Linked DNA regions of Homo sapiens. The protein of the gene in region 2 purifies or fractionates together with the protein of the main gene of each other region. This does not show direct contact. Each region holds a gene or a part of one and is shown on either strand. Other genes may lie near its edges.

Region 1 (7,441 bases), on a different chromosome or scaffold from region 2:
TTGACACATTTTCAACATTCTCTTTCGGAACATGAAAGCACCTGAACCTCCCAAACTGACTAAAACGTTTTGAAGGAAACTAGATTAAATGGAACCCTTGTTGAAGAACCAAAAATTAGGCTTACCCAACTGGATACTTTAAAAATTGATTTTTTACTCCTTGAAAATGCTATACGTTCGAAGAATCGAAAGAGAAAAAGGCTGGATACTTTGGAATCCTAGGAATCCTAACAGTAAAATATCCTACAAATAGAAACTTAAGTCAATAAGGTATCTTTCATTCATCTTTGGTTGGTTCATTGGTTTTAATTTCAAAGACAAACTTATATTTCTTTCCTTTTTACCTTTAATTTCTACTACCTACCTGGGAAAGATGGTAACCACAGAACTGCTGAACTTACATAGTCATAGCTATAATTACATAATTTTCAAAAACTTATGTAAATTTTATTAAACAATTTGTTTCCAATTAATACATTTCTCCAGACTAATTTTTAAAAAACCAATGCCATAAATCCACATTATAGAAAAACAAAAGGAAATTTGAAAGAAAAAATATTTATTTTGGAATAATAAGACTAACTAGCAGAGATATCTTACAAGACAGTTCATATTGGACATGTATTGAAAAGGATGTCTCTCTGAACTGACCCACTAAGTTATTTATAAATTCAACCCCCTAACTTTCCTACTCCCTGCCCATTTTTTTTTTAAAGTAATACGATTTCAGCCGGGCATGGTGGCTCATGCCTTGTAATTCCAGCACTTTGGGAAGCCGAGGTGGGTGTTGATCACTTGAGGTCAGGAGTTAGAGACCAAACTGGACAACATGGTGAAACTCTGTCTCTACCAAAAATACACAGATTGGCCTGGTGTGGTGACGTGCGCCTGTAATCCCAGCTACTCAGGAGGCTGAGGCACGAGAATCACTTGAGCCCAGGAGGTGGAGGTTGCAGTGAGCCAAGATTGCATCACTGCATGCCAGCCTGGGTGACAGAGTGAGACCCTGCCACAAAAAAAGAAAGAAGAAAAAAGTAATACAATTTGGATTTGGGTATTAAAAAAAAATTCCTCTGAAGACCCACAGTTTCTGAGAAATACTTATCTAAACAGGAAGCATCACACTTGGGCAGGATAAAGCTTTCAAGAGCTTGCCCTTGATTTTAGCTCTTTTAGGTTAACATTCCCATGACTTTCCTATTCAGCTAAAGAGATTTCCTTGGACTTATTCCCTTACTCACTACAATTCCTACCTATACTTTAGGACAAAGCTTCAGAGCCCAAAAGGAGAGCCAGTTGGTCCTAAAAATGCTTTGTCCACTCTGATGCCAAGGTGCAAAGAGCATGAAGCGACAGACAAGGCATAAGAGATAGCCGCCTAGACTCGTCATTGAAGGCTGCCAAAATCGGGTCCCTCCTGTCGGGAGTATCTCCCTCCTCCCAAACTTCACTTGAGACTCTCATCATTACAAATGTCAACTGCATAATCTTTGCAGTTACTCCCCACCTGTGCATTAACATAAAGCAGCTTGCTTTATTGGGTTAATTCAAAAGAGTTATCAAGTACCTACTGTGCGCCAGGCACTGCTGTAGGTACTAGAAATCTAGCAAGCAATGAACGAAATGACAAAAATCTGTGTCTTCCTGAAACCTATATTCTGGTAGAGGAGACGTTCAAGAAACAAGCTAAAGAAACAAAATATGCAGTACGCTAACTAATACATGCTCAAGAGAAGACAAATGAAGCAGGCAAGGGGAATATACACTGTGGTGGGCGGGGTAGGAAAGGTTGGAATTTTAAGATTAAGTGGTCACACATAATCAGGCAGATGGTACGTGCCTAAAAGGGTAGCCAGAGCAAAATCAGATGGAGTGGGGAAGAGAAAGGAAGTGCGCTTATTTTAACAAGTCCTGAAGTGGAGAGAAAACCCTACGGGAAGGGGGTGAGGCAAACACTGAATATGGACCACTGAAGACAAACGCGGATTTCACATTTTGCCTAAAGACCAGTCCTTTGAGGATGGCACAACAGATGTTCTCCCTTTGTAACCAAAGAACCAGGCTCTGCTACTAAAACTGTCAGGCAGTTCATCGGACACGGGTGAACACACACACACACACACACACACACACAGCTTACTGTCAGGCAGTTCATCGGACACGGGTGAACACACACACACACACACACAGCTTACTGCCGAGGAGAAAGAAGCGTTACTAATCCAGAGTGGAGGACTGGCCTGGGAAATCGGGCAGAGAGAGGAGTTGTCGGAAAGAACACACCAGAAGCCCCTCCGAGCCCAGACACTGATAGAAACCCAGCCGCTTCCCAAGCCAATCTGCAAACCCAGGAGGCACCCACGAGTGCACAGACACACCCCCGGGGTGCAGGCGCGGTGAAGGGAGGAGAGGGGCAAGAGCTTGACCGTTAGGGCCCGAACCCCAGAACTCCCGAGGCAGGGTGTGTGCCGCGCGCGGGAAACGCCGTTCTCCGCTCCAGGCGTCGGCGGGCGGTGGCGAGAGCAGGTTCGGGGGTCCGGAGGGTCGGAGGGTGGGCTGCGCGCGGGAATGGCCGCCGCGAAGGAGGGGCGGCTTCCTCGGGCATCCCGGGCGCCCGGCCCCGTGCATGCAACAGGGGACTGGGCGCGAGCGGGCGCCTCGAGGTGCCGGGGCGGGACCGGGGAGAGGGGACCGAGACAAAGTTCCCGAGACCCGCGGGCCTCGGGCCGACCCGCGCGCCCCCGGCCCAAACGCTCAGCTCCCGCTCCCCAGGCCCGCGCGGACCCGGCCCCTCCGAGGGTAGCGGGTTCCAGCGGCGAACCCGCAGCGCCCGCGCCGGCGCCCGCTCGGCCCTTTCCCGCCCGGTGCGTGGGTCCAGGAGAGAAAGAAAGCGCGGCGGTGTCGGTGGCGGCGCGCGGCCCCACTCACCATGATCCGCAGCGGCTGTGGCGCGGCGACCCGGGCGGGCGGCGATGCGCTGTCCAGGGTAGCCGGGTCCCTCTGCCCGGCGCTATCTCGGCGCCCGCGCCGGTTACCCCCACCCACACCCACGCCCGGCGCGCGCACACCCGCCCGCGCCTCCCCGCCCCCTCGGGCTCGCGCCGCCGCCGCGCGGCGCTCCGAGCCTCGGGGCCGTTTCGTCCCCGCCCCCTCTCCCACAGGGGCCTCGCCGGCCGCCGCGCCAGGAGGGCGCGCGGGGGAGGGGCGCAGGGCAAGTGAGGCGGCGCCCCCCGCCCCTGCGGCCTCGCGCGCCCCCTCCTGGGCGACCGACCTCGCCCTCGCGTCCGCGGCGTCCCCTGCCGGCCGGGCGGCGATTTGCAGGTCCAGCCGGCGCCGGTTTCGCGCGGCGGCTCAACGTCCACGGAGCCCCAGGAATACCCACCCGCTGCCCAGATCGGCAGCCGCTGCTGCGGGGAGAAGCAGTATCGTGCAGGGCGGGCACGCTGGTCTTGCTTACAGTTGGGCTTCGGTGGGTTTGAAGCACACATTAGGGGGAAATGGCTCTGTTCCTGCAGGTTTGCGCAGTCTGGGTTTCTTAGGTTTAGGGGGTTGGGTGGGTTTCTCTGGGGGTGCGGTGGGAAGCGGATCAGTTCGGATAACGGCCCTGAGCAAGAGTCTCTGTCCCGCTCCCGGCCTGACGCGGGGCTTCCAGCGGACACGACCAACGGTGAGCGCACCCTCTTCACTGTGAACAGAACGGTGGCCTCCTAGAGCCTGCGCTTCTAGTTACTTTAGTTGTGTGTGTGGCCCAAGTGAAAGACGTCGAAAAAATTGGACTTGCCTGAGTATTACATGAACTTTCTTCCATTTCTCCCTCAAGCATGGGAAGTTGGCGGGCGTGGTGGTTCCCTCCTGTAATCCCAGCACTTTGGGAGGCTGAGGCAGGCGAATCACTTGAGGTCAGGAGTTCGGGACCAGCCTGGGCAACATGGCGAAACCCCGCCTCTTAAATAAAAAATACAAAAATTAGCTGGGTGTGGTGGCCTGCGCCTGTGATCCCAGCCACTCGGGAGGCTGAGGTGAAGGATGGCTTGAGCCCTGGAGGTGGAGGCTGCAGTGAGCCGAGATCACGCCACTGCACTCCAGCCTGGGCGACAGAATGAGACCCTGTCTCAAAAAAAAAAAAAAAAAAAAAAAATGTTTACCACATGTGAGGCTCATGTGGTAAACATGTTTATTGGGGTTGAGAGCAGCCCGTGTGGCTGTGCACGGAGGTACCTGCACCATACACTTAGCATCCCACACCTGGGGCGGTGTGGGAGCCCTTGCAGAGTTTTGTGCAGTAGCAGAGTGAGTAACTGTAGGTACCGGGGCTAAATCTTAACTGTCATACAATCACCTAATATATAGTTTCCTAATAGAGAGTTTTTCTTCCTAATATAGAATTTCTGTAGCTGAAGTGGTAAATATTAGGCATATATTTGTTTATAAAAGGCGGATGATTTTATGACCATAAACAGGTTAACCTAGTCTGATAAAAATCTCAGGAGTCAGCTCTGCCACATACTGGGTGTGTGGTATTGGGTTGGTTACCTAAACTGTCTATGCTCCAGTTTCCTGATTTACGAATTTGGGATAAAATAGCACTTAACATTACATGTAGCTGTTAGGGTTAAATTAATATGGGTAAAACTCTAGAAAAATATCTGGTACAAAAGTACTAGTTATTGATTTGTTATCAATTTGATGCATTTGAGAATCAGAAAGTGATATTCTATTTAATGCTGGCATATTTTTATAAAAAAGTGTGGCCCAAATCAAAGATACAATTTGATTTCAGCTTCACTTACTTTGTTCACTCAGCAAAGATTTCAGTGCCTACTATGTGCTAGGCGTTTTGGTAACAGCTAGGGTTACAGTGATGAAGAAAAACACAGTCCCTGCTGTTAGGAGTTTTTAGAACCTGTGATGATCTATATTATGATATTGAGAGACTTGAAGGAAATTCACACGAATAGTCCCCAAATATTGTTTTTCCTTGGAATGATTTTATTCTTTCTGTTTTACCTGTGTTCTTTCTTCTATTTGATACGTGTTATATTTGAAAGCTATAAAAGTAGCTTCCACGTCTTTTGGATATTGAATGATAAAAACTCTGGACCTGAATTTCACTGTATCACTAATCTGATGCAGTATAATGTGAATTCTTAATCTAGATAGTGATTTTTTGACATTATTGTGTATAAGTAGCACCAGAGGGTTTAATACTATACAGGGATACTTGAGATCCATCAAGATGACCTCAGGTACAGACCAAGAATATGAATTTTTTTTTGGTTTTGCTTTGGGTTTAATATTTGCTATCAGTTTCACATTGCGGGAGTATCTACTTCATTCCAGAGGCATCTCTGACCCTGCATAAAGTATAATGGACTCTCTATGGGTCTTGAAGTGGTGAAACCTCCATTTCTAAGGAATATGAATTTTGAACAAGCACCACAAATGATACTGGTGCAGCCAGGCAGTCCATGGATGATATTTTGAGAAACTAAATTCCATTATCCATTCAGGGAAAGCTTTAGTCTATTTTTCTAACAACATGAAGGGAAAAAACAATTTTAAGTGACAACCGACCTCTAAGAACCCTGCGGCTGTTGCTTGCAAAAATTGTATCATTGATGTCATCTAAACCTTGCAAAGCACACCAGGTAAACATGGGGAAGGAATTCTTAAACTTTGAATTATCCCTATACTTCCACATTACCATTTAGCCTGATAATCATTATTTTACCTTTATTCTCTAAAAATACACATCAACCCATAAGGCCAGAAGGAGATCTAAAAAGTCATCTATATCTTATCTGTTTCTTAAAATATTATTTTATGGCTTTCCTTATCACTACAACAAAGGAACAAATGAGACGGCAAATGCCAGAGGGTCTTTTTCCCCACCAATATTTTATTAAATAGAAAAAGGAAGTGGTGGCCAGGTGCGGTGGCTTATGCCTGTAATCCCAGCACTTTGGGAGGCCGAGGCAGGTGGATCACAAGGTCAGGAGTTTGAGGCCAGCCTGGCCAACATGGTGAAACCCCGTCTCTACTAAAAATATGAAAATTAGCTGGGCGTGGTGGCGGGCACCTGTAATCCCAGCTACTTGGGAGGCTGAGGCAAGAGAATTGTTTGAACCCAGGAGGCGGAGCTTGCAGTGAGCCGAGATAGCGCCATTGCACTCCAGCCTGGGTGACAGGGCAAGACTCCATCTCAAAAATAAATAAATTAATTAATTTTTTTAAAAAAGGAAGTGGTTCTACCTGTATAAACACAGGACTGGAAACATATCTTAACCAGATATAACTGGGAGAGGGTCTTAACTGGGTATAACATGAATTCCCACTTAATGGAAAATTTAACATGCCATCACTTACATGATTTTATAATATTTACTTTCGTTGTTCTCTTGTATGGATTACACAAAAGCTGGACTCTGTTTCTTAGCTGTACGGCAAGCCCATATTGAGCATGTGTACAATAACATAGACTAATTGTGTGTTAGGTACTTACATGGATGTGGTGCTATATAAAGTGATGATTAGCATAATCTAAGAATCTTAAACCTAAAAATAGAGATCTGACTGATGCTCTTTCTCTCCCTCTGTCACATATCGTAGATTTTATAGGTTCAGAAAGTGTGTCTCAGAGGAGTTAGAGAAGACCGATTAATAGATGACAGTGCTAAAGCCTGGATCTCCTGAATCCTGGGTGAGTATTCTCATTGTCTCTACTGCCTCTGCAGTGCTAGTCTGCCAGCCCTCATCAAAATTATGAAGTAGGCAAGCTTTGTTTTGGGGGGAGTTTAATCTCCTTTTAGTGTGGTTCTCTTCTGAAGCATCCCTTCTTTTGATATACCTAGCATCTTTGTGTTTTATCTTGAGAAAAATACTCACTTACAATGTATTATGACTTTAAATCAGTTTACTACATTTCTTCAAAGTATTTGTACTTTTAGGGTAGTAGTAGAAACAGACTCTGGAAATCACGTCCTTTCCTTGGCCATGGGCTCTGCTTTGTGTTAAGAAAGCTCTGCACCTATATGAGTTTAGAAATGAAAAATAGTAAGATAAAGAGTAAAGATTAAGCCCAAGTGAAGGCACATTGAAAAAACTGAGTTCCCTCCATCAAATTTAGTGCAGCTTTCACTCGATATGTTAGGACTAAGGATTTATGACAAAGCAATATATGTATATATTGGTCATTTGATTGGATGTAGTAACAAGGAGACAATCATGACCTTGTATCAATCCAGGTTTAAAATAAAGTTTATGTTAATTCATTTGAAAATATTATGCTGAGTACTATATTCTAGTATAACATTCTAGAGCAGAGGATGGCAAACTACAGTGGCAGGACAAATCCAGCCAGTTGCCTGCTTTTGTAAATAAAGTTTGTATTAGAATACCACTGTGTCCTTATGTTTACGTATTGTCTGTGGGTGCTCTCATG
Region 2 (7,108 bases):
TGGCACAATCTCGGCTCACTGCAACCTCTGCCTCCCGGGTTCAAGCGGTTCCTCTGCCTCAGCCTCCTGAGTAGCTGGGAACTACAGGCGCCCACCACCATGCCCAGCTAACTTTTGTATTTTTTGCTGGAGACAGGGTTTCACCATGTTGCCCAGGCTGGTCTCAACCTCCTGACCTCGGGTGATCCGCCCACCTCAGCCTCCCAGAGTGCTGGGATTACAGGTGTGAGCCACCACGCCCAGCCAGTTTATGGTTTTATAGTAGATTGTAAGATACATGTATTTATAATACATAACATAGGGAGAACTAAAGCAAAGATTATTCTGTCTCAAATTTAGTGTCATATTGCAAAAAAAGGTGTAATTAGCTGATTTTTCTGAAAAATCCTTTGTGATATGACAAATCATATAACCTCTGAAAAGCATTGGAAAGAGAATGGCTATAAAGACTCAACTTAGTTTGTCTTCTGAAAGAGATTACCACACAGCTGTAAGACACACAAACTTTCAGAACAATGAAGTCAAACTTTTGATGATCTGCCAACCCCAGTCCTGCTCCACACTTTTCACTTCCATTACTATCATCTTTTGCCTAAGAATTCTACACAAAGGCCAGATTTTTGAGAAGGCAATAGAAACAGGAAAGTGGTAAGGGCAACACTCAATAAAAGAAACCTAATTTACTCATCCTTGCAATGTTAATACTTCCAGAGAATACTATCCAAGCATATTAAATAAGAAGAAAACAAAGAATATACCAAGTGATTGGGTGGGATGAGGAGGAGAAAAAGGGCACCAAAGGCAAAGAGAAACTATGAAGAAAATTGAGGATACAACGACAGGGGCCAAGAAGAATTTTCAGGCAAACAAATGTGATCAAAAGTGAAAAGGAAAATGTCACACACAGGAAAACTTAGAAATAATAAACAGTCATCCCAAGGTCATGATCAACATACAGCTCTTAAAATGAACCAGAGGGGAAAAAATACTATTTGGAAAGTATCTTCAAAAAAATTGCATCAAAATTACAATAGATCCTCTAATTTCATTTTTAGTGACTTAACTTACAAATTTTGGTTGATAATTTAAAGATTCTTATTTTCATTCACTTTAAAATCTACATATTTCTGGCCAAGCGCGGTGGTTTACGCCTGTAATCCCAGCACTTTGGGAGGCCGCCGAGGTGGGCAGATGAGGTCGGGAGTTCGAGACCAGCCTGGCCCACATGGAGAAACCCCGTCTCTACTAAAAATACAAAATTAGCCAGGCGTGGTGGCGCATGCCTGTAATCCCAGCTACTCAGGAGGCAGAGGCAGGAGAATCGCTTGAACCCGTGAGGCCAGAGGTTGCCGTGAGCCATGATCGCACAAGAGTGAAACTCCATCACAAAAAAAAAAAAAAAACTAAATATTTCCTTTTCTCTTCTTCCTTTCTTCCTTTAGTTTTATGCCTTCTCTCTTTTTTTTTTAGAGATGGAGTCTTGCACTGTTGCCCATGCTGGAGTGCAGTGGTGTAATCACAACTCACTGCAACCTCCGCCTCCTGGGTTCAAGTGATTCTCCTGCCTTAGTCTCCCCGAGTAGCTGGGATTACACGCGCCTACAACCATGCCAGGCTAATTTTTGTATTTTTAGTAGAGACAGGGTTTCGCCATGTTGGCCAGGCTGATCTCGAACTCCTGACCTCAGGTGATCCACCCGCCTCGGCCTCCCAAAGTTCTGGGATTATAGTTGTGAGCCACCATGCCCTGCCTATGCCTTCTCTTTATAATCAAAACTTTCTCTAAGACAAAACTATGTGACCACTTCCACAAGTGACTAATACCTGATCCAAGAAACCATGGTAGACATCTTTGTTGCCTCCAAAGTTTTGAAGGATAATTTAAGTTAAAGCCTTTAATATCATAAATAAAAGGTACTCTTCACAGCAAAATAACTTACAAAATCTTAAAGTATGGCTAACACAAAATCTGAAGTAATCAACCCAGCTTACTCCTTTGACATGAACAAAAAAGGATACATCCCCTCCACCTCTTTTTCGGGGTTTCTGGTTGTTTTTTTTTCTTTTGAGAGGGAGTCTCGCTCTTGTTACCCAGGCTGGAGTGCAATGGCACCATCTCGGCTCACTGCAACCTCTGCCTCCTGGGTTCAAGCGATTCTCCTGCCTCAGCCTCCTGAGTAGCTGGGATTACAGGTGCCCGCCACCACACCCGGCTAATTTTTGTATTTTTAGTAGAGACAGGGTTTCACCATGTTGGTCAGGCTGGTCTCAAACTCCTGACCTCAGGTAATCCGCCCTCCTTGGCCTCCCTAAGTGTTGGGATTACAGGCGTGAGCCACCGCACCTGGCCCTTTTTTTTTTTTTAAGACAGGGTCTCGGGCTGTCACCCAGACTGAAGTGCAGTGGCGCCATCTTGGCTCACTGGCAACCTCCCCACCAGCAACCTCTGCCTCCTAGGCTCAAGCAATTCTCTTGCGTCAGCCTCCCGTGTAGCTCGGATTACAGGCATGCACCACTACCACCTGGCTAATTTTTGTGTTTTTAGTAGAGACAGGGTTTCATTATGTTGGCCGGGCTGGTCTTGAACTCCTCACCTCAAATGATTCACCTGCCTCAGCCTCCTAAAGTGCTGGGATTACAGGCGTGAGCCAGTGTGCCCAGTCTGTTTTGTTGTTTTTTTTGAGGGAGTATCACTCTGTTGCCCAGGCTGGAATGCAGTGACCCTAACACAGCTCACTGTAGCTTTGACCTCCCCAGGCTCAGGTGATCCTCCCACCTCAGCCTCATGAGTAGCTGTAAGGTACTACAGGTACATGCTACCATTCCCAGTTAATTTTTGTACTTTTTTTGTATAGATGATGTTTCAGCATGTTGCCCAGGCTGGTCTCAAACTCCTGAGCTCAAGCAGTCGGGACTCAGCCTCCCAAAGTGCTGATTATACAGGCAAGAGCCACTGCACTTGGCCTCAAGCTAGTTTTTTTCCTAATATAGAAGTCAAAAAACTTTATGTAAACAAAATTATTATTCACTGTTCAAATTTCAACTTAAAGTCAGATTAAGCACATAAAGGCAAACAAGTTTTCCAAAATTCATCTCTTCCTTTGAATATTTCTGAATACTTAGAAAAGTCTTAAATTTTGAAGCACAAATACCAATTAAAAACTTCCCAAATGTTTTATACCAACAATTTTAAAAGCTGACAACTTTTTAAAGTATCCAGAAAGGTGGTAGTAGACACTAGTTGCGGAAAAAAGTCAAACTTGTTCTCCTGCCATATTGATGTTTTCTAACATACTTTTAAATTTACATACAATGAAATTCACTTTTTGATTTACAGTTTTATTTTTAACAAAGTTGCATACCACCACTATGAGTTTATTTTTTTGAACAAATTGTCAAGCTATCCACAAAGAAGAAGGATTACAAAAAGTGCTTTATGAATCCTACCTCAATTAGTATCTGGCAACAACAGCTTCTATAAATGAGAACCATAACACAACCACTAAAATAATAAAAATGGAAAAGCCAATACTTACAAAGTAAACGTGTCATAATAGAGTTTATATATATGTATTGGACTTCTTCCTTCTAGAATTCTTTTAAGAGATCAACCCAAAATGATTATACTGCAGAAAGTACTCATTCATTCACTCTGAAACAAAAGTTCATTTTCTCCTTATAAAACCTATTAGTAAAAGAAACTTTCCTACTAAGGTTTTAAATTCCACTGGCTGTTAGCAATATAAAGTTGTTCAAAATATTACCCATGTTTTTTGTTTTTTTTCATTTCCCATTAGGGAACAAAAAGAAAAGCCAATAAATATATCACGCTTTTATCTTAAGGATTTAACTCAAATTTCCATCCTGTTTTGAGGCATCTTTGAAGGCAAGAATTTCAAAACAGTACCTAAGTATCTATCAGGTGGCTAGACAGCAAACATTGAAACTCACTTCATAGACATTAAATTATGCTAAGCTTTACTGAACTGAGACAGCCACAAATGTTACTTTGAAATAATTCCTATAATAAAATGGCTCATTAAAAAAAATCATTTCCTCTCAGCACACTAGTTAATCTTATTTTCAAATAGTGTACTATATTCTCCCATCTCAGCCTCCAGAGTAGCTGGGACTACAGGCATGAGCCACTGCACCTTACTATACTGTAGTATGAGATCCATTAGGCCAGGTGCATTGGCTCATGCATGTAATCCCAGCACTTTGGAAGGCTGAGCCAGGTGGATCATGAGGTCAGGAGTTCAAGATCAGCCTGGCCAAGATGGTGAAACCCTGTCTCTACTAAAAATACAAAAATTAGCCGGGAGCAGTGGCAGACACCTGTAATCCCAGCTACTCGGGAGGCTGAGGCAGGAAAATCACTTGAACCCAGGCGGCAGAGGTTGCAGTGAGTCAAGATCGCACCACTGCACTCCAGCCTAGATGACAGAGTGAGACTCCATCTCAAAAAGAAAAAAAAAAAAGAGAGATCCATTAATAAATGTTTTCTTGAAACTAAGTAAGGGTCTAATTAACAACTATTAAAATCTAGGTAGAGGATGTAAGAATACTTTAATATTCTTCTTGAGTTTTCTCTGTTTGAACATTTTCACAATAAAATGGGTGGAAAAACTAAAGAGCCAATTATTAAAAAACCATATTGAGTTTAGAAAGTAAAACTTTGAAAACATTAGCTAAATATAAGCCTCATAAGAAGTTTAATCTGCTGTAGTATGGTTTGTTTTTGTTTTTGTTTTTTTGAGACAGTCTTGCTCTGTCACCCAGGCTGGAGTGCAATGGTGCGATCTCGTCTCACTGCAGCCTCCTCTTCCTGGGTTCAAGCAATTCTCCTGCCTCATCCTCCCAAGTAGCTGAGATTACAGGTGCCTGCCACCACGTCAGGCTCATTTTTATGTTTTTAATAGAGACGGGGTTTCGCCATGTTGGCCAGGCTGGACTCAAACTCCTGGCCACAAGTATCTTCCTGCCTTGGCCTCCCAAAGTGCTGGGATTACAAGCATAAGCCATCATGCCCAGCCTATGGTTTCATCTTTCATAAATTTTTTTTTTTAATGTATTACTGGAAGTCTCTGAATCCAGACCTGTGAGGAGACTGACATACTTGTCTGGCTCTCAGTCTGTAACCTCTGACAAACCACTTATACATACTAGTTTCTCTCCTCATTTGTATAGCTATTTTAAAAGGTATATGAAAAGTATTTACAAAGTTTTTATTTTAAATACTCTGTATCAATGTGTTATTACTCTTCATTCTTTTAGAGACTGTCCCGGTGACTTATATGATCAAAACAGGACAAAGTAAGATACAGAGATCAGATTTCAGATATAATCTCTAAAAATGAAAATTAATGTATTACACATAGCACCTCTGGCATATATATGATCAAAACAGGACAAAGTAAGAAATATCAGATTTCAATACCTCTAAAAATGAAAATTAATATATTACATATAGTATCTAAAATAATTGTTATGTGGCTCTTGCAAACAATATAAAAGTTACCTATGTGTCCATATAAGACAGTAAGTAACCAACCTTTTCTGGCATTATCCTAGAATAAACAGTAGTTAAAATTTCCAAGATATTTCTAGCAGAGATCCTGACAAGGCAAAATAGAGCTAGTACAGAATGTTCACTAGCTTGGTAAGTTCACTTACTCAGAAAGTTCACAAAGGGTTGTCAGACTAAGGTGAAATTCTCAGAAATATAAACCAGGTCACTCATTACCTCGCTAGTTCAGAGCACTAAGAAAAACTTTTTCCTTTTCCTTCATTCTCTTCTCCATACCATAGTTTAGCCTGGACTCTTTCCTGCCTTTTTTTTTTTTTTTTTTGGGACAGAGTTTTGCTCTTGTCACCCAGGCTGGAGTGCAATGGTGTGATCTTGGCTCACTGGAACCTCCGCCTCCTGGGTTCAAGTGATTCTCCTGCCTTAGCCTCCCAAGTAGCTGGTATTACAGGCACTTGCCACCATGCCCAGCTAATTTTTTGTATTTTTAGTAGAGACAGGGTTTTACCATTTTGGCCAGGCTGGTCTCGAGCTCCTGACCTCAGGTGATCCGCCCACCTCAGCCTCCCAAAGTGCTGCGATTACAGGCCTGAGCCACTGCACCCGGCCAGGTGCTGTTATTCTAGAAGGTATGATAAATAGTTTATAAAAGACACATAAAAGTAAGTTTCAGAGATCTGCTCATGTCTATAGTTAACACCACTGTACTGTACACTTAGAAATCTGTGTAGAGGATAGGTCTCATGTTAAATGTTCTTACCACAATTAAAACCATAAAATATTGACACCATACTGAAACCGAAGTTATCCATGCAACTAGCTTTTGTGTCTTCTTAAATTATAAAATTAGTTTTTATTATAGAAAATTCAGAAAATAGAGAGAAAAAGCCACCCATAATCACATCAGCAAGAAATCACCACTACTATTATTTTGGTGTCTTTATTCCAATCCCATGTGTCCGTGCATGTGCACACATTTTAACAGAACTGGTAGCATAATACAATTTTGTATCCTATCCCCTTATTTTATTACATGCCTTTCCCCCATCATGATATGTTCTAGAAAAACATGACAGTCCATGTTGTGGATATGCTTTCTTATTGCTCATTTATGGGTTTGTTCTTGTTGCTGTGTTGTTTTGTTTGTGGGTTGTTGTGTTTTTTTGGTATTGTAACATTTAGGTAAACACCTTATAGAGAAAAGTCTTGCTCCACAGCTCTAATTACTTCCTTAGACAATTCCTTTAAATGTACTTCTGGGTCAAACAGTAAGGACATTTTTAAGGCTGTTGAAAAGATGACTAGGTTTCTCTCTAGAAAGGGTTTATATCACTTTATGAACTCTAACCAATGATGTATTAGAGTGGTCCACCTCTCTATGCAGTTCCTAACCTTAAATAAAACCATAGTTTTATAGGACTTAGTAAAAAACAATAAGACACACTTGTTACCATACCTACCCGAGTTTAAAATATAAAAGTTTAAGGCAGTTAACATTAGTCTGCATCTGTGTCTTACCAATATATATGTATAGGCAATAAATGGTAATAAAAGTTATGGGGTAGGAATAGAAATACTGGG
Region 3 (7,108 bases), on a different chromosome or scaffold from region 2:
GAGACTGGCAGCCGCTGTGTTCACCTGGGCAGGTGTGCACCCAGTCACCCCCACTGGATTATGGTGCTGGTAGCATGAGAGGGTGTGTCCACACCAAGGGCAGGTGAAGATGCGAGGTGGGGCTGAGACCTCCTTCCCACAAGAGGAGGTGGCTGAGCCTCCCAGGGCCTGAACTCTCACAGCAGGGCTCACCCCCAAGCCTGTATGCTTAGCTCTGACTCTCTTTGGACAATAAAATAAAGTGCATTACTGAACAAAGAGTAACTCAAAACCAGAATCAGACAAATCGCCAATGCTTTTCCTTTAGCTAAAAGACAAAAGAAAACATGAATGATGTGAATGCCGGAACTTCAGAGTAAGGGAAATGCTGGTGGAGGACAACGGAAACTATAATAGCGTGGTGGATAAGGACGAGCGAGTGGGAGAGGAACTGGCAACGCGGCTCTCTCTAGAAGTCCGTGCTGTCCAGCCTCTGCCCAGTGGTGGGGGAAGGCCTTGGACTCACAGGGAAGCAATGCAGGAAGCCTTGGCCACCTAGGCTCACAGCTCATCTCAGGACCAGAGGAGACAGCAGAGGACAAAACTTCAGTGTGACAGCTGCTAGGAGGGAGAGCAGACAGCCCGCGGTGGGCAAGCTGGGAGTTGCATCCGCAGCAGTCCGCTTCAACCCAGCTCCTCTCCACCCTTCCTGACCCTCCACAATAGCTCTGCCGTGACCAGACCCAACCCAACTGGCCCCTGGTCCCAAGAGCAGATGAGCTGCTTGGGCCTTCCACTTGGTGTCCCATGCCAGGCGGACCTGGAGGTGTCAGCCATGGCCCTGACCACTTCAGAAGCCAACAGGCAAATGTTCTCTGTTCATAGTGCCAAGAATGTGGGTCACGTGGGCTTACCCCCCAGGATGGACACAGAAGTCCCTAAGCAGTCTGCAGCTGGGCCAGCCTCTCCCGTGGGTGCAGAGCAGCCCAGATGTGGCCATCATTAAGGCAAAGAAGCATCGAGATGCCCACCACTCCCCGGGTAAGAGCCATGCCCCGGCCTGGCCACGCCACAGAGGAACGCAGAGCACACAAGCAGGACCCCACCACGTGCTGTTCCAGATCGCCCAGTCTCCCTCTATTGGTACACTATCAATTGTGCAGTGCCCCAGGGAGGTCCCAAATGGCCCTCACAAGAGGCACAGCCCCTAACGCCCTCAGCCAGGCGGTGCAGTGGGACGAAGCAGCGTATTGGGGAGGGCCAGAGCATCGGCACCGGTGACCCAGCTCTCCCACCCAGGCCATCGCAGGGCAGCCTCAGGGCAGGCGCCACCACTGCTCCTGCTCAGCCCGCAGTATCTGCAGTTGCTGCAGCTGTGTGGCTTGGTAGAAAAGTCTCAGGCACTGAGGTTTACTTCAAGGGAGAACTGACTGGTGCCCCCGTCCACACTCATCACCCTGGACACAACCTCGGGGGCTTCACTAAAGGAGGGAAGGATGTGGAAACTAGTCTCTCTCACTCCCCTTTTGTGCAGTTTTTATCTTAAAAAAAAATAAATAAAAGTCTTCTGGGCAGGAATTACTGATAACTGTTATTATAACCAATGCAGACTTTAAAATCCCACCTGGACATCGGGTGAGAGGAGGAGGGCAGGCAGCAAACCGACCTGCAGACCTGCAGAGGGGAGCCGTGTCCAGGGCCACTGCGTCCCCACCAGACAACAGCTACTAGAAGAGGAAAGTGGCCCTCACAGGCAGGGTGCCTGCCACCAAGCAGTCAGACAAGGGGGTAACCAAGAGCTCCCAGCCAGAAAAACATGGGGGCAGGGAGGCCAAACAAAAAGCACTGAAAATAAAGAGAAGGCTGGGTGGTGGCAGCATCGGCCCCTCCCTGTGCGCCCCAATTCCAGGTGCCACGTAGAGGCGAGAGGTCTTTCCAACACGGCGGGGGACTTGTCAACAGGATTAGGCGTGAGGAGCCGCTCTGCGTTTCCAGTCTGGAGACTGCATTCAGCCTGCAGAATACCAGCCGTGGCGCCCGCTCTCCAGGGAGGAACGTGCTGAGAAGCTTCAGTGGGTCAGGGAGCCCAGGACAGCCAGCCCCTTGTTCCTCCAGGGCTGCCCACTATGGGGCAGTTACAGGGAACACACTCAGCAACGCTTCTGGCTTCAGGAAGGGCTGGGCTGGGCCCGGTCCTAGCCAGCAGAGGGCAGGCGCCCTAGGTCCTGGGGAGGCTGCACATCTCGCAGTGGCCTGTGCCTGGCTGGTTCATGAACGTGCAGTGCTGACAGGCCCACATGGCTGCAGTGGCCGTGTGTGTGGAGCCCCCGACGGCGCCGTACTCATGGAGACCTGGGAGCTGCCCGCCAACTGTGCCTGCAGGGTGGAAGAGAAATGAGCACTCATCATTTCTGGCCCACCAGAGACTGCCAGAGTGTGGGCATGGGGGCAGGGGCAGGCAGCTGAGAGCTCCCCGCCCCCAACATCCCACCCAGTGCTGGTCCTGCCCACACAGCACTCCCACCACAGGCACACTTTGAAGTGCTTAATGCCCTCAGAAAAATGCCTCCTGCACCACAGGGAGTAACAGGGAGCCTGTGCTTGCTGGTTCCTTTTTGTTGCAGAGGGTGCTTCTCCTTGTGAATAACGTAACTCCCCGGGGGATGTGCATTTGGGTTGTTTCCAGCTTTTTTTTTTTTTTTTTTTTTCTGAGGTAGGGTCTTGCTCTGTCACCCAGGCTGGAGTGCAGTGGCACGATCTCGGCTCACTGCAACCTCCACCTCCCGGGTTCAAGCGGTTTTCCTGCCTCAGCCTCCCAAGTAGCTGGGATTACAGGCATGAACCACAATGCCTGGCTAATTTTATCTATTTTTTGGTAGAACTAGGGTTTCACCATGTTGGCCAGGCTGGTCTCGAACTCCTGACCTCAGGTGATCCACCCACCTTGGCCTCCCAAAGTGCTGGGATTATAGGTATGAGCCACCATGCCCAGCCTCCAGTTTTGAGCTAATATGAACAAAGTTGCCAGGATCATTCTTCTACAATTTCTTTGTGGACCTGTGTTTTTATTTCTCTTGGATAAAAACAAAGAGTGAGGCTGGGTGCAGTGGGTCACGCCTGTAATCCCAGCACTTTGGGAGGCCGAGGCGGGTGGATCACTTGAAGTCAGGAGTTTGAGACCAGCCTGGCCAACATGGCGAAACCCGGTCTCTACTAAAAATAATTAGCCAGGCGTGGTGGTAGACACCTGCCGTTCCGGCTACTCAGGAGGCTGAGGAAGGAGAATCCCATGAACCCGGGAGGGGAAGCCTGCAGTGAGCCGAGACCCTGCCTCTTCACTCCAGCCTGGGCGACACAGCGAGACTCCATCTCAAAAACAAACAACAGGCCGGGCGCGGTGGCTCATGCCTGTAATCCCAGCACTTTGGGAGGCTGAGGTGGGCAGATCACAAATTCAAGAGATGGAGACCATCCTGGCTAACATGGTGAAACCCCGTCTCTACTAAAAATGCAAAAATTACCTGGGGGTGGTGGTGCGCACCTGTAATCCCAGCTACTAGGAAGGCTGAGGAAGGAGAATGGCGTGAACCTGGGAGGCGGAGGTTGCAGTGAACCGAGGTTGCAGTAAGCCGAGATCTCAAAACAAACAAACAAACAAACAACAACAACAAAAAACCTACCTAGGAATGAATCTGCCGGCCCACAGGGTAATGAATTGTGTGCTGAACTTTCTAAGACCCTGAGACACAGTTCTCGCGAGGGTGGCACGGTTTTGCCTCCCACTCGCAAGGTACGAGAGTCCCAGCTGCTTCACATCTTCACTCACACTTGACATTGTCGCGTTTTTTTCATTTCAGCCACACTGATGAATGTGTAACGGCTTCTCATGTTTTAATTTGCATTTCCCTGATGACTAATGATAGTGACTGTTCCTGCATCTCCTTTTTTTTGTTGTTGCCGAGGCTGGAGTGCAATGGCGCAATCTCGGCTCGCTGCAACCTCTGCCTCCTGGGTTCAAGCGATTCTCCTACCTCAGCCTCCCAAGTAGCTAGGATTACAGGCACGTGCCACCACACCTGGCTAATTTTTTTTATTTTTAGTAGAGATGGGTTTTCACCATGTTGGCCTGGCTGTCTCGAACTCCTGACCTCAAATGATCCACCGCCTCGGCCTCCCAAAGTGCTGGGATTACAGGCGTGAGCTACCATGCCCGACCTGCATTTCCTTTTGTGAAACGTTTCACCCTCCGCCCAGCTTCTTCTTCTGCTTTCTGTTTGATTAACAACAGGCAGAGTTATTTTTAAGTTTCAGATAGAAGTCATGTTGTGTGTATGTACTGCTAATACTGCGTCCCCCATTGGTGCCTTTTCATGTTTCTAACAGTGCCCTGTGATGAGCACAAGTGTTTTGTTTAGATAAATTTATTTATCAATTTACCTATTTTTATGCCAGTGTTTTTCTGTGTTCTACCCCAAGGTCCTGCATCCTGCCTAAAAGAATCTTTGCGTACCCCAAGGCCCTGAAGAGATTCAACTTAATAACTGTTTTACAGTTTTTATTTTTTTAAGACAGGGTATTGCTCTGTCATTCAGGCTGGAGTGGTATAATCATGGCTCACTGTGACCTCGACCTCCTGACTCATGGGATCCTCCCATTTCAGCCTCCCCAGAAGCTGGGATTATAGGCGTGGACCACTCACCATGCCCAGCTAATTCTTTTTTTTTTAATATTGTTTTTTTGTACAGACGGGGCTTCACTATGCTGTGTGGGCTGGTCTCACACTTCTGGGCTACAGTGTCCTCCAGCTTTGGCCTCCTAGAGTGTTAGGATTATAGCTATGAGACATCATGCCCAGCCTGCTTCATAGTTTTACCTTTTACCATTAGGCCTATGACCCATCCTGAGCTGATCTTTGTGTCTTGTGTATACACGTCTGTAATCCCAGCACTTTGGGAGACCGAGGCAGGTGGATCACCTGAGGTCAGGAGTTCCAGACCAGCCTGACCAACATGGTGAAACCCCATCTCTACTAAAAATATAAAAATTAGCCAGGCGTGGGTGCACGCCTGTAGTCCCAGCTACTCGGGAGGCTGAGGCAGGAGTATCACTTGAACCCAGGACGTGGAGGTTGCAGTAAGTGGAGATCATGAGATTGCACTGCAGCCTGGGTGACAGGGTGAGATTCCGTCTCAAAACAAAACAAAACAACCCATGAGGGCCGGGCGCGGTGGCTCACACCTATAATCCCAGCACTTTGGGAAGCCGAGGTGGGTGGATCACTTGAGGTCAGGAGTTTGAGACCAGCCTGGCCAACATGGAGAAACCCTGTCTCTACTAAAACTAAAAAAATTAGCTGGGTGTGGTGGCAGCCACCTGTAATTCCAGCTACTTAGGAGGCAGAGGCTGGACAATGGCTTGAACCCGGGAGGTGGAGGCTGCAGTGAGCTGAGATCACACTACTGCACTCCAGCCTGGGCAACAGAACAAGACTTTGTCTCAAAACAAACAAACAAAAAACCCATGAAAAAATGCCCAACATCACTAATCATCAGAGATGCAAATTAAAACCACAGTGAGATACCAGTCAGAACTTACACCAGTCAGAACTGCCTATTATTAAAGAGTTGGCTGGACATGGTGGCTTACCACTGCAATCTCAGCACTGAGGCGGGAGGATCGCTTGGGCCCAAGAGTTCAAGACCAGCCTGGGCAACATAGTGAGACCTCATCTCTACAACAAATTTAAAAAATCAGCCAGGGATGGTGGCACATGCTTGTAGTCCCAGCTGCTCAGGAGGCTGAGGCGGGAGGATTGTTTGAGCCTGGGGAGGTCAAGGTGAGACTGACCTCAAATGCCACTGCACTTCAGCCTGGGTGACAGAGTGAGAACCTGTCTCAAAAAAAAAAGGAGGGGGGAAAAAAAAAAGGTCAGGTGCAGTGGCTCACAGCTGTAATCTCAGCACTTTGGGAACCAAGGCAGGAAGATCACTTGAGCCTAGGAGTTTGAGACCAGCCTGGGCAACATGGCAAGACCACATCTTTTTTTTTTTTTTGAGACAGAGTCTTGCTCTGTCGCCCAGGCTGGAGTACAGTGGCACGATCTCAGCTCACTACAACCTACGCTTCCTGGGTCAAGTGATTCTCCTGCCTCAGCCTCCTGAGTAGCTGGGATTACAGGCGCTCGCCACCATGCCCAGCTAATTTTTGTAGTTTTAACAGAAATGGGGTTTCACCATGTTGGCCAGGATGGTCTCAATCCCTTGACGTTGTGATCCACCTGCCTCAGCCTCCCAAAGTGCTGGGATTACAGGTGTGAGCCAGCCACCGGGCCCGGCCAACCCTATCTCTTAAAGAAAAAAAAAAAACACCAACCAAAAACATTAGTTGGGTGTAGTGGCTCATGTTTATACTCCTAGGTACTCCGAAAGCTGATGCAGGAGGATCGCTTGAGCTCAGGAATTGAAGGCTGTAGTGAGCTATGATCACTCCACTGCACTCCAGCCTAGGCAACAGAGTGAAACCCTGTCTCTAAAAGGGAAACAAAAAAGAAAAAAAAAAAAAAGACTGGTGTCATTGTTAGAACTGCATCAAAGGGCTGGGTGCAGTGGCTCCCAGGTATAATCTCAGGACTTTGTGAGGCTGAGGTGCAAGGAATGCTTGAGGCCAAAGTTTGAGACCAGTCTGGGCAACACAGTGAGACCTCATTGATACAAAAATATTAAAAAATTTTGCAGCCATAAAAAGGAATGAAATCATGTCCTTTGCAGCAACATGGATGCAGTTGAAGGCCATTATTCTAAGCAAACTAATGCAGGAACAGCAAACCAAATACTACATGTTTTCATTTATAAGTGGGAGCTAAACATGGGTACTCACGTACATAAAGATGGCAACGCCAGGTGTGGTGGTACACATCTGTAATCCCAGCTACTCGGGAGGCTGAGGGAGGGGAATTGCTTCAACCCAGGAGGCAGAGTTTGCAGTGAGCTAAGATTGCGCCACTGCACTCCAGCCTGGGAGACAGGGTGAGGCTCCAGCTCAAAACACACACACACACACACACACACACACACACACAAAGAGCAGGGCGGGCTGAAAAACTATTAGGTACTATGTGTAGTACCTGGGT

Evidence for each region.
Region 1: the proteins of TRIM13 (region 2) and ELOVL2 purify together in Homo sapiens (affinity purification with mass spectrometry; 2 studies listed by BioGRID and IntAct, with this or other methods). This does not show direct contact.
Region 3: the proteins of TRIM13 (region 2) and NPLOC4 purify together in Homo sapiens (affinity purification with mass spectrometry; 2 studies listed by BioGRID and IntAct, with this or other methods). This does not show direct contact.

Annotation. Positions count from the first base shown.
Region 1 is NC_000006.12:11,041,300-11,048,740, forward strand, and holds the start of ELOVL2 (very long chain fatty acid elongase 2), read right to left. Parts: upstream 3,007-7,441; 5' UTR 2,932-3,006; coding exon 2,929-2,931; intron 2,527-2,928; exon of another isoform or gene 2,459-2,526; intron 1-2,458.
Region 2 is NC_000013.11:50,000,036-50,007,143, reverse strand, and holds part of TRIM13 (E3 ubiquitin-protein ligase TRIM13), read right to left. Parts: intron 6,150-7,108; exon of another isoform or gene 6,039-6,149; coding exon of another isoform or gene 6,036-6,038; intron 1-6,035. UniProt on the Homo sapiens protein: Endoplasmic reticulum (ER) membrane anchored E3 ligase involved in the retrotranslocation and turnover of membrane and secretory proteins from the ER through a set of processes named ER-associated degradation (ERAD).
Region 3 is NC_000017.11:81,557,062-81,564,169, forward strand, and holds part of NPLOC4 (nuclear protein localization protein 4 homolog), read right to left. Parts: exon of another isoform or gene 6,919-7,108; coding exon of another isoform or gene 6,860-6,918; exon of another isoform or gene 3,822-6,859; intron 2,356-3,821; coding exon 2,198-2,355; 3' UTR 1-2,197. UniProt on the Homo sapiens protein: The ternary complex containing UFD1, VCP and NPLOC4 binds ubiquitinated proteins and is necessary for the export of misfolded proteins from the ER to the cytoplasm, where they are degraded by the proteasome.